Linked DNA regions of Homo sapiens. The protein of the gene in region 2 purifies or fractionates together with the protein of the main gene of each other region. This does not show direct contact. Each region holds a gene or a part of one and is shown on either strand. Other genes may lie near its edges.

What was found. The genes of interacting proteins can lie anywhere in the genome.
Region 1: the proteins of ANKLE2 (region 2) and NUDT4 purify together in Homo sapiens (affinity purification with mass spectrometry, with the first as the bait; one large-scale study listed by BioGRID). This does not show direct contact.
Region 3: the proteins of ANKLE2 (region 2) and NUDT11 purify together in Homo sapiens (affinity purification with mass spectrometry; one large-scale study listed by BioGRID and IntAct). This does not show direct contact.

Annotation. Positions count from the first base shown.
Region 1 is NC_000012.12:93,391,425-93,394,924, reverse strand, and holds part of NUDT4 (diphosphoinositol polyphosphate phosphohydrolase 2), read right to left. Parts: intron 317-3,500; coding exon 206-316; intron 1-205. UniProt on the Homo sapiens protein: Cleaves a beta-phosphate from the diphosphate groups in PP-InsP5 (diphosphoinositol pentakisphosphate), PP-InsP4 and [PP]2-InsP4 (bisdiphosphoinositol tetrakisphosphate), suggesting that it may play a role in signal transduction.
Region 2 is NC_000012.12:132,734,333-132,737,832, forward strand, and holds part of ANKLE2 (ankyrin repeat and LEM domain-containing protein 2), read right to left. Parts: intron 2,889-3,500; coding exon of another isoform or gene 2,881-2,888; exon of another isoform or gene 2,744-2,880; intron 2,734-2,743; coding exon 2,561-2,733; intron 1,181-2,560; coding exon 1,074-1,180; intron 244-1,073; coding exon 53-243; intron 1-52. UniProt on the Homo sapiens protein: Involved in mitotic nuclear envelope reassembly by promoting dephosphorylation of BAF/BANF1 during mitotic exit.
Region 3 is NC_000023.11:51,489,511-51,493,592, forward strand, and holds the end of NUDT11 (diphosphoinositol polyphosphate phosphohydrolase 3-beta), read right to left. Parts: intron 2,240-4,082; coding exon 2,239-2,239; 3' UTR 501-2,238; downstream 1-500. UniProt on the Homo sapiens protein: Cleaves a beta-phosphate from the diphosphate groups in PP-InsP5 (diphosphoinositol pentakisphosphate), suggesting that it may play a role in signal transduction.

The sequences.
Region 1 (3,500 bases), about 39 Mb from region 2:
GTGAGCCAAGATCGCTCCACTGTACTCCAGGCCTGGCAACAGAGCGAGACTCCATCTCAAAAAATAAAAAAAAAAATTAAAATTAAAAATAAAGTTGCATCAGGCAAAAAGCACTCCTGGACCCGTCTCGCTGTCTTAGTGTTATGTAGCAAAGGGCCTTGTTTTTAAAACTCCGAAACAGAATTTGTGTGAAAGAACATCTCACCTCCTCATAAACTTCCCTCACGGCAGCACCGCCAGGTTCCTCCTCGGGTTCCATTCCTCCTCCTGGGACAATCCACTGGTCTGGGTACCGGCTGCTACTCACCAGCAGCACCTGTAAGGTGAACCATAACTGTATACTTCCAGCCTGAGAAGCACTTCGTATATAAACAACATTCTCAAACCTCTGCAAGGTTATAACTCTATTCTAGATTAAAATATTTTAAAATTTAATTAAAATTAGGGGGTACGCATTACACCACAAAAATGCAATTGACAACCTTTGTTAAACACCATCTTTCTGAAATCAGAATTAACATTAACATGGTCACACTACCAAATCACCTTATCTAATGAAATAAACTACTGGTGGTAAAACTCTCAAATTATTGGATAATAACAAAGGATAAAAACAGAAACTTGGCTGGGCGCGGTGGCTCACGCCTGTAATCCCAGCACTCTGGGAGGCCGAGGCGGGCGGATCAAGAGGTCAGGAGATCGAGATCATCCTGGCTAACATGGTGAAACCCCAAACCCCGTCTCTACTAAAAAAATTAGCCAGGCATGGTGGCGGGCGCCTATAGTCCCAGCTACTTGGGAGGCTGAAGCAGGAGAATCGCTTGAACCCAGGAGGTGGAGGTTGCAATGAACTGAGATCGTGCCACCATACTCCAGCATGGGTGACAGAGACTCCATCTCAAAAAAACAAAAAACAGAAACTTGGCTTATTAGCCAGAGTTGTATGCACTGAGGTCTATGGTCACATAAGTTTATTTAGTTATGGAATATTCCAAATTTAAGGAAATGACCATAGGTAGGTTACCTTGTTTCCTCACCTAAAAAATAAGAATACTAAGAAGATAACAGATGTGTGAGAAAGAAATAGGGAAATGCACATAAAGACGATTCTTGATACAGAGTGCTTGTTACTGTTATGATTAGGTGGCAAGAAGCATCCTTCACATTTTAAACCTGCATACATAGGCAAAAGTCACTTCATTCTTCTAACAGGCAGCTATCATTTATGATCTAGAACAGGACTGGCAGTCTGCAGCTCACCACCTGTACAGTCTGTGAGCCAGAAGTATTTTTACATTTTAAAATTATGTGAAATTCAAATTTCAGTGTCCACAGATGGAATTATTAGAATCGAGTCACTTACTCATTTTTACATATTGTCTGGTTGTTTTAATGATGCAACAGCAGAGTCAAAGCAGTTGTGACAGAGACTGTGTGGCCCTCAAAACTTAAAATGTTTGTCTGGCCCTTAATTTGGAAGTCTATGGACCCCTTACCAAGAATAGCATTAAGATTGAAATGTGGCCGGGCGTGGTGGCTCACATCTATAATCCCAGCACTTTAGGAGGCCGAGGTGGGCGATCACCTGAGGTCAGGAGTTCCACACCAGCCTGGACAAAACATGGTGAAACCCCGTCTTTACTAAAAATACAAAAATTAGCCAGGTGTGGTGGTGCATGCCTGTAATCCCAGCTAATCGGGAGACTGAGGCATGAGAATCACTTGAACCTGGGAGGCGGAGGTTGCAGTGAGCAGTGAGCAGAGATTGCACCACTGCACTCCAGCCTGGGCAACAGAGCAAGACTCCATCTCGGGGAAAAAAAAAAAAAAAAAAGACTGAAATCTACAAATTGTTACAAAAATACCCTATTACCTTAGACAAGTATCCTAGATTTTATTTAACAGGTAACAGGTATTACATACCCATCTTTTAAATGAATATCTGGCCGGGCGCAGTGGCTCATGCCTGTAATCCTAGCACTTTGGGAGGCTGAGGTGGGCAGATCACCTGAGGTCAGGAGTTCCACACCAGCCTGGACAAAACATGGTGAAACCCCGTCTTTACTAAAAATACAAAAATTAGCCAGGTGTGGTGGTGCATGCCTGTAATCCCAGCTAATCGGGAGACTGAGGCATGAGAATCACTTGAACCTGGGAGGCGGAGGTTGCAGTGAGCAGTGAGCAGAGATTGCACCACTGCACTCCAGCCTGGGCAACAGAGCAAGACTCCATCTCGGGGGAAAAAAAAAAAAAAAAAAGACTGAAATCTACAAATTGTTACAAAAATACCCTATTACCTTAGACAAGTATCCTAGATTTTATTTAACAGGTAACAGGTATTACATACCCATCTTTTAAATGAATATCTGGCCGGGCGCAGTGGCTCATGCCTGTAATCCTAGCACTTTGGGAGGCTGAGGTGGGCAGATCACCTGAGGTCAGGAGTTCAAGACCAGCCTGGCCAACATGGTGAAACCCCATCTCTACTAAAAATACAAAAAATTAGCCGGGCGTGGTGGAAGGCACCTGTAATCCCAGCTACTTAGGAGGCTGTGGCAGGAGAATCACTTGAACCTGGGAGGCGGAGGTTGCAGTGAGCCGAGATCATGCCACTACACTCCAGCCTGGGCAACAGAGCTAGATTCTGTCTCAAAAAAAGGAAAAAAAAAAGGGGGGGGGGGAAACAAAGGAATATTTGTGGGCTAGCTTAGGTTGAACTTCACTTAAGTTAAAATCAACTCAAGGTGAGCGTGGTGGCTCATGCCTATAATCCCAGCACTTTGGGAGGCTGAAGTGGGTGGACATCTGAGGTCAGGGGTTCAAGACCAACCTGGCCAACATGGTGAAACCCTATCTCTACTAAAAATACAAAAATTAGCTGGGTGTGGTAGCACATTCCTGTAGTCCCAGCTACTCAGGAGGCTGAGGCACAAGAATTGCTTGAATTCAGGAAGCGAAGGTTGCAGTGAGCCGAGACTGCACCACTGCACTTCAGCCTGGGCAATGGAGTGAGACTCTGTCTCAAAAAAATAAAAAATAAAAATAAATAAGTCAATTTGAACAAAAGTGTCCACAAAATTATCTTAGTATACTACCTTCAAGTAAATTTAAACAGTTCTCCCTCGAAAACACATAGGGTTTATCACGAAGTTTAATTCCCAGTGTGCATAGAGATGATGATGATAACTAAGACAGGGTCTCACTTGGACATCCACGTTGGAGTGCAGTGACACAATCTCTGCTGACTGCAGCCTTCACTTCCCGGGCTCAAGTGATCCTCTCACTCCAGCTTCCCGAGCAGTTGGGAGTACAGGCACCCACCACCAGGCCTGGCTAATTTTTGTACTTTTTTTTTTTTTTGAAATGGAGTCTCGTCCTATCATCCAGGCTGGAGGGCAGTGGCATGGTCTTGGCTCACAGCAACCTCTGCCTCCCGGGTTCAAGTGATTCTCCCACCTCAGCCTCCAAAGTAGCTGGGATTACAGGCACCTCCCACCAAG
Region 2 (3,500 bases):
CGGCCATGGGGGGCCCCTCCCAGCTGCCACAGCCACGCCTGCACATGCTTACCAGACGTGGTGGCTTTATCTCGGCAGGAGGCTTCCCGTTCTCCTGTTTCTTGTTGAGCCTTTTTGCCTATTTCCTGCTGTGTGAGATATTCTTCTAGTCTTTGCAGGCCTTCCTGGGAAGACAGATCAACAAAACAGCCCAGAAATTCCCAGTATTCAACCCAGGGATACCCCAGCTCATGAGCTAGCTCCCTGTAAGAAACAAAACACAATTAACCAGCTGTGAAACCAGAAAAAATACTCAGAACTACACAGAAAAAAGCCACTAAAGCTTCAAGTACCAAAGCAATGTCTGCAATCATGGTTATAATTTTCCTTTATCCTTAACTGGCAGCTGAAATCATACGGTGCATTTTCTGAAACAGCACGCCTCCTCACAGGTAAGCAGGACCCGGCACAGCTCTCAGGAGCCGTGAACCGGCTGCAGGCAGGAAGGAGGCCTCAGCCCGACAGACCCTCACGCCAGCAACCCAGGTCACACAGTTCAACTCCCACAGACGGACGTGTTCATGATCACGGAACAGCCCTGTGAACTTGCCCGTGGTTCTAGTCATGGCCAGGCACACGAAAGCCTGGAGGTCCTTTCTGGGTTCCAGTTGTACACCTGACACTGGGCACATATTTTGAGAAAATATTCTAAACAATTCCACGAAGCTTTATTTGATTACAGCATAATTTAGCTTTGTGGCTATGGCCTATTTTTTCCCAAGGAATCCATAGCATTATATGGTACCTTCTATAAAATATTAAGGTTCCTTAGAAACATGTCCCAGAACCAACAAGGAATTCCAATTAGAAAAGGAAAGGAAGGCACTGCAGACATCCCCCAGGTCTGGGACGGGACTGGCTTAAGCTAGAATTCCACAACATCCACAAGGAATTAGACCTTCACGAAAAGGACCAAGTCTCCCAGAAAAGCCTTCTGGAAATTGGTACTTTGAAGCTGTGATTTGACCTTCTGTCATTAATCAAAATGCAACCAACTGTGTGCCCCACGCTGCTGCGGCTCAGCCTTTCAGTACCTTCCCACTCTCTCAAAGCCTCTTTCCGGGTCCGACTTCTTGACGTGGTGAAGGAAGCCTGCTTTCTCTCGAGGTGGAGTTTTCCAGAGCTTGCGAAAATCTTCTGCCTATGAAGAAAAAAAAATGTATTGAGCCGTGTCAGGCACTGCGCCCCTCAGCTGCGGAAACCTGAAGAGCCGTCGTCATCGCAGTAGCTGCCTGTCTCCGCACACCCTTCCTTCTCTCCCCTTCACTAGCAGATCCCTGGGCCACGTGCCCACCTGTGGCATGGCTGAGTGGCCGCACGGCTGCACTCTGACCTGGGGGAGGGGAGGCGGTCTCCTTTCTTGCAGCCCCGTCTGGGCTGTGAGGTTCAGAACCAGGAGGGCCCGAGCACGAGGCCTCACCCTGAGGACAGTGGACGGCTCGGAGCTGCCACCCCGACGCACATGTGACACTGCTCCCATCGCAGGAGAAGAAACCAGATCTTTCTCAGTCACTCTCCCTAGAGCTTTATGCTTTATGCATCTCACCTAACCTTACCTGATACCACCTAATTTTGGGGCCATTTTCTTTTTTGTTTTGGAGACGGAGTCTCGCTCTGTCGCCCAGGCTGGAGTGCAGTGGTACGATCTCGGCTCACTGCAAGCTCCACCTCCGGGGTTCAGGCCATTCTCCTGCCTCAGCCTCCCGAGTAGCTGGGACTATAGGCGCCCACCACCACGCCCGGCTAATTTTTTGTATTTTTAGTAGAGACGGGTTTCACCGTGTTAGCCAGGATGGTCTCGATCTCCTGACCTCGTGATCCACCCGCCTCGGCCTCCCAAAGTGCTGGGATTTCAGGCATGCGTCCCGGCGCCCGGCCTGGAGCCGTTTTCATCGCAACTGATTTAGAAAGTTTCTAGCACAGGATGGTGCGTGCAGGTCAGTGTGTGAAGTATTCCAACAGGAGAAAGAATTGTCAACTGTAAATAAAAAAGTGTACAACCTTTGACCCAGCAACACCACCATTAAGGATTTCTCTGAACACTGGGGATGAGTAGAACCTGGGGCTGAGGCTTCCAGGAGAGGGACTTGTCTGAGAGGAAGCCAGCGGGGGCTGCAGCCACAGGGAAACGTGGTCAGGAGGTGGACGTGCAGATGGAGCTTTCCTAGTCACAACGGGCAGCCTCGCTACACCAGCAAGGTGCCTAGGACGGGCCATCAACACAGCAAGAACAGGGCGACACGCGCACAGGACGGGGCTGGCCCAGGGAATGTCTGCTTTGTTGAGACAGTGGCTCCCAGCACATCGGCCCTGGTAAGCAAGCCACAGAGCCAAGAACACACATTTCTCTGACAAACGTTCTCATCACCAATCACTGGTGGATGGTTTGAGATGAGGACAACCTTGGGGCTCCACAGGACATGGTCCCTGAGACCACGCACAAGGCAACAGGCTGGAACACCCAGCAGCACAGTATAGGGACAGCCAGGCACCACTTCCAGAAGCTTCTACAGCAGCTCACCTTGGCTGGACTCAGGGGCCCTGCGAAGGCTCTCAGGGTCAGTACCGGGTCTCTGGGGCTGCCTCCATAGCGGCTGACGTGAGAGGCCTCAGCCGTCTGGTCTGGGGACCACAGCTCCCCGATGACTGGAGAAGAAGTCTCTTCCGCTCTCAGGAGGGGCACGTAGTAGTGGCCTGAGGGAGGAGACAGGCACTGGCTGCAGGCTTCCGCCCCCTCCGCAGGTCAGGCCTGGGTGAGCAGGACGGGGATCACGCGAGCCCTTGCCAAGGCCTCTGCAAATGGATCCAACAGACGGGGCAGAGGGTGGTTTCCGCCAGAGCTCACTGCACTTAATGCAAATGGATACAATGGAAACAAAGTCACACAAGGTCTCAGAGCTCACTTCACTTAACCAGCCTCATTTTCCTCCACTGCTACAAGAAAAGAAAGAAAAGAAAAGGAAGCCCCAGGTAGTTAAAGGACTAAGGGGTCGGACCTGAGTGAATAAGAGTAGCACACAGTAGGAGCTTAATACATTTTAAAAATGTTATATTTCATTCCAGCCGGGTGCGGTGGCTCACGCCTGTAATCCTACCACTTTGGAAGGCTGAGGTGTGTGGATCACCTGAGGTCAGAAGTTCAAGACCAGCCTGGCCAACATGATGAAACCCCATCTCTACTAAAAATACAAAAATTAGCCGGGTGTGGTGGTGGGTGCCTGTAACCCCAGCTACTCATGAGGCTGAGGCAGGAGAATCACTTGAACCTGGGAGGTGGAGGTTGCAGTGAGCCGAGATCACGCCACTGCACTCCAGCCTGAGCGACAGAGTGAGAATCTGTCTCAAAAAAACAAAAAAAAGTAATATTTTATTCCTTCTCTCCTTTTTTTCTCCTCTTAGTTTCAGACAGAGTCTCATTCTGTCACCCAGGCTGGAGTGCTGTGGTGCAATCATGGCTCACT
Region 3 (4,082 bases), on a different chromosome or scaffold from region 2:
ACATGCAATCCAATTATACTTTTAGTCATTTTTTAACGTACAATGAAATTATTGACCATAGTCACCCTGTTGTGCTATCAAATACTAGATCTTATTCATTTTTTATTTATTATTTTGGAATTTTAAAAATTTTCTGAAATTGAGATGAATTAATTTTGTAGTCAGAAAAAACAAATTCAGTGCCCTTTTTTAAAAAGGTAAATAGTAGAATGAGTGTCCCAACTGGAACCTAAACTTATGTCCACCACTAGGGTTTAAAGTTTTCCGGTAATGTGTGACATACTGAAGGGGATAAAGTCCTTTGGCATGTAGAACTGGGGGCTTTGCAAGGAAAAATTCACACTAACGGAAGAGCAGTCTGCAAACAAGTTTAGCTCAAGAACAAAAGCTAGGTTTTCGGAGAGGAGGAATCAATCTTTCTGGGCTGTGGATCTGTCTTCTGATCAGCCTTCTGCACTTAAGTCTAGGAGAGAGGGGGCCTACAAGTAAACTCTGAAGAATACTTTTTTCAATTTTTATTATGGAAAATTTCAAACATATACAAAAGTATAGAGAATAGTATAATGAACTCTCAAACATCCATCACACAGCTTCAGCAATTACCAATTTATGGCCAATCTTGTTTCATCTATGTACTCAATTACCCCACACTCAGATGATTTTGAAGCGAATACCAGTAACATATCATTTCACCTGTACATTTTTCAGTATACTTCTCTAAAAGATAATCATTTTTTAAAACAACATAACCACAGTACCATATCACATCTTAAAAAACAATAAATCAAGAAGTTATATTTTTATTTCAAATTATGTAACAACTGGGGACACAATCAATACATTTCACTGGTATCATGAGGAAGAGTGTCACACTAAAATGGAGTCCAAGCTTTTATCGATGCAATTGCTTTATAATATAAAAGAAAAAATCAAACAAACTAGCATATTAGAACCACTTTTGGTAATTTGTAAGGAGCTGAAGACTGCTGATATCACACATCCCATGGCAAACTCCGTAAGATTTCTTCTAAACATCTTTGTTATTTTCTTAAAATTGTTCTGGAGGCAGCTGATGCAAGTCCTCTTTTTTAAAAAAACCTTCACTTTGTGTTCCCCTCTAATAGCAGCCTCTTTCCTAAATGCCTTTTCTAAATGACAACAATTTTGCCCTCTCTCAGCCCTCTGCATTCTCATATGCAGAAACCAGGTAGGATGAGGAGCTAGCTGTGTGTACTGGAAAAGGGATGAAAACTACAGCCAAATGGATCAGTGAGAGAGGCAAAAGAAATCTAGACAAACTAAATGGCATAATTAAGTTTGGAAACTGCCTATGATATAGCCTGTTGGCTCTGGCATCAAATAATACAGTATGTTAAATCTGTAAAATGAGGAAACAGTGTTTCCTCAAAGAGATGTTAAGATGACATGTAAGAAGTGGTTAGGGCAGGCATTGCAAAAAAATGTCTTATATATCATTTTAAAATTTATTTTTATAAAAACTCACAACATTATTTTGCGTCCACTGTATTTATTTTTACAATTACCTTTATAGCAAGTGATAGTTTTTGAATAAAATTTAAGCAAATCATCAACAGTACAAAAACACTAGAGTTGTTACACGAAGGACTGATTCTACAAAACATTACCCTAGGTGATGGCATAATCTTAAAACTGTGCAGCTACTGTGTGGTATGACATAGAAATAGGAGTAATAATTCTTGTCCTCAAACATCTTACAACTGTCTTGAAATATTTCTGAAACACCTGATACACAAAAGCCACACACATGGTGCCTAGATAGCATATACTCTACTAGCACCAGATTGGAAGGGGAATGTTTTGCCACACGGTGATTACAAAATATTAATTGAATCAAAGAACCTTCAGTGATGCCAACCATATTTCAAGTAGTGTCTCAGATGCAGAATATGCAAAGAGTAAGGAAAAATAGTCTTTGCTCTCAAAGACATCATAGTCTAATGAAGGCAGACACATCAAAAAAGCACAACAAAAGGCTATAGGTGCTGAATTAAGAGTCTATTCACGTATAAGAGTACAACAACCAGAGCAAGAGTCAGTGGTATAGACAGGGAAGGAGTGTCCCAAGATGCAGGAAGAAACCAGATGAGCTGTCTTCTTGGGAACACAGAAGTGCTCACCTGTACTTGACAATTCCACTGATCACTGGGTTCACATCAATGTTTCTTTCAGCACAATACTGAACATCTTTGCTGTTCATCTGGAAAAACAAACCAACACACAATTAGCAGGCTTATGTTAATAATTCCTCCAACTGACAAATGTACCAAGAGCTTATTATGTACATCAATCACTTTGCATCAAGCACTTCACTTCCACAGAATTATCTAATGCAGATGCAATCAATGAGTCTGGATCAGCAACTGAGGGGTTATAAGCCAATGTATACCATGATGTAAAAAAGTCAGGAAAGCAGCGATATCAGAAGTTTTGTAAAAGAGGAGTGACCATTTAAGACATAAAATATCCTAAATTCCATGTTACAGACTCTAGACTCATGGAAATAATTCAGGCTGATTCCCACCCACGAAAGAGTTTTCAGTCCAGTGACCACATGGCCAAGAAAACAGATTAAGTACAATAAACTCTGCGAACCATGACACAGAAGAGGGTTTCTTAACCCAGGTGGTCAGGAAAGGCTTCTCATTGGAGATGTTTGTAAAGTGTCTATTTTTACTATCTCCAACAACAGATTTTTTTTTTAAACTGAGCGTCAGATAGTTAGATAACTTGGCTTAAGTTTCAGTGAGGAAGAACTGGAACTAGATCTGTCTGACTTCAAACCCCCAATGTAGTTTCTATCACATCATGCGCTCACTCTTTTTTTTTTTTTTTGAGACGTAGTCTCACTCTGTCGCCCAGGCTGGAGTGATCTTGGCTCACTGCAACCTCTGCCTCCTGGTTTCACGAGATTGTCCTGCTTCAACCTCCCAAATAGAAGGTATTACAGGCACGTGCCACCATGCCTGGCTGATTTTTGTAGTTTTACTTCATTAATAATTAGAAGTAGAGTTGGGGTTTCGCCATATTGGCCAGGCTGGTCTCCAACTCCTGACCTCAAGTGATCTGCCCACCTCGACCTCCCAAAGTACTGGGATTACAGGTGTGAGCCACCATGCCCAGCCCATGCTCTCTTATTCTTATAAAAGTGTTATGTTTTAGCACAGTCAGCATAGTAACTTCCACTTCTTATAGTGCTGTTTGCCCAAACATATTTAAAATCTGCTAAATACCATTAGTATTAATAGCTATCTTATCAAGAGACCACTACCAGGAAAATATTGTTTAAAGTCTTTCAGAGAGTACCTGGTGGCTCCCCCACAAGGGAATTCTAGAGGTGAAAGCTCTGCCAGGCAAATACACATTTTCTAACTGTAAACAAATTGGCATTCTTATACTAACCTTCTGAAATGAAATCACAGAAAGAATTTAAAACCTTTACATCAATTGTTGCAAATGAATCTATGCAAATAAAGCAACAAAATTATTTTCGAGTTTCTTCCCTTTAGTTTGTTTCTTTAAAGTGTAGTCAACAGATTTTGTATCTAAACACACACATACTTCTTGAGAAAAACTGTATATATTATAGACACAGCACCAATTGTTTCCAGTATATGCATCTATATTAATGTTTCCTCTTTATATATTCACAAGAATAAAACACTTGACCAGCTGAAAATGTAAGCTATTTATAAAACATGCAGAAAATAAATCTGATTCATGTCTGCAAACCTCAATTGTCTGTGTACTCTTTTTCCTTTCTTTATCAAGACAGGGCTGTAAAATTTAGGTGTACATTTTTCTGCTATCACAAAAGAAATAATGTACAAGTGAACTCTACTACTCTTAGAAGGAAAAAAATCTCAACTATACATCAAATTTTGGAGCACTGAAGTGGCAGAAATTTTCTATATACTACCTCTGTTCTAAAGAAATGTGGTGCCACTGTTCCGAAAACAAATCTTATAACACATTTAAGTATAGGTAAACAAAGTACAAATCTCAGTTTTTCAAAACATTTTCTGTACTAATGCTTTTAACTT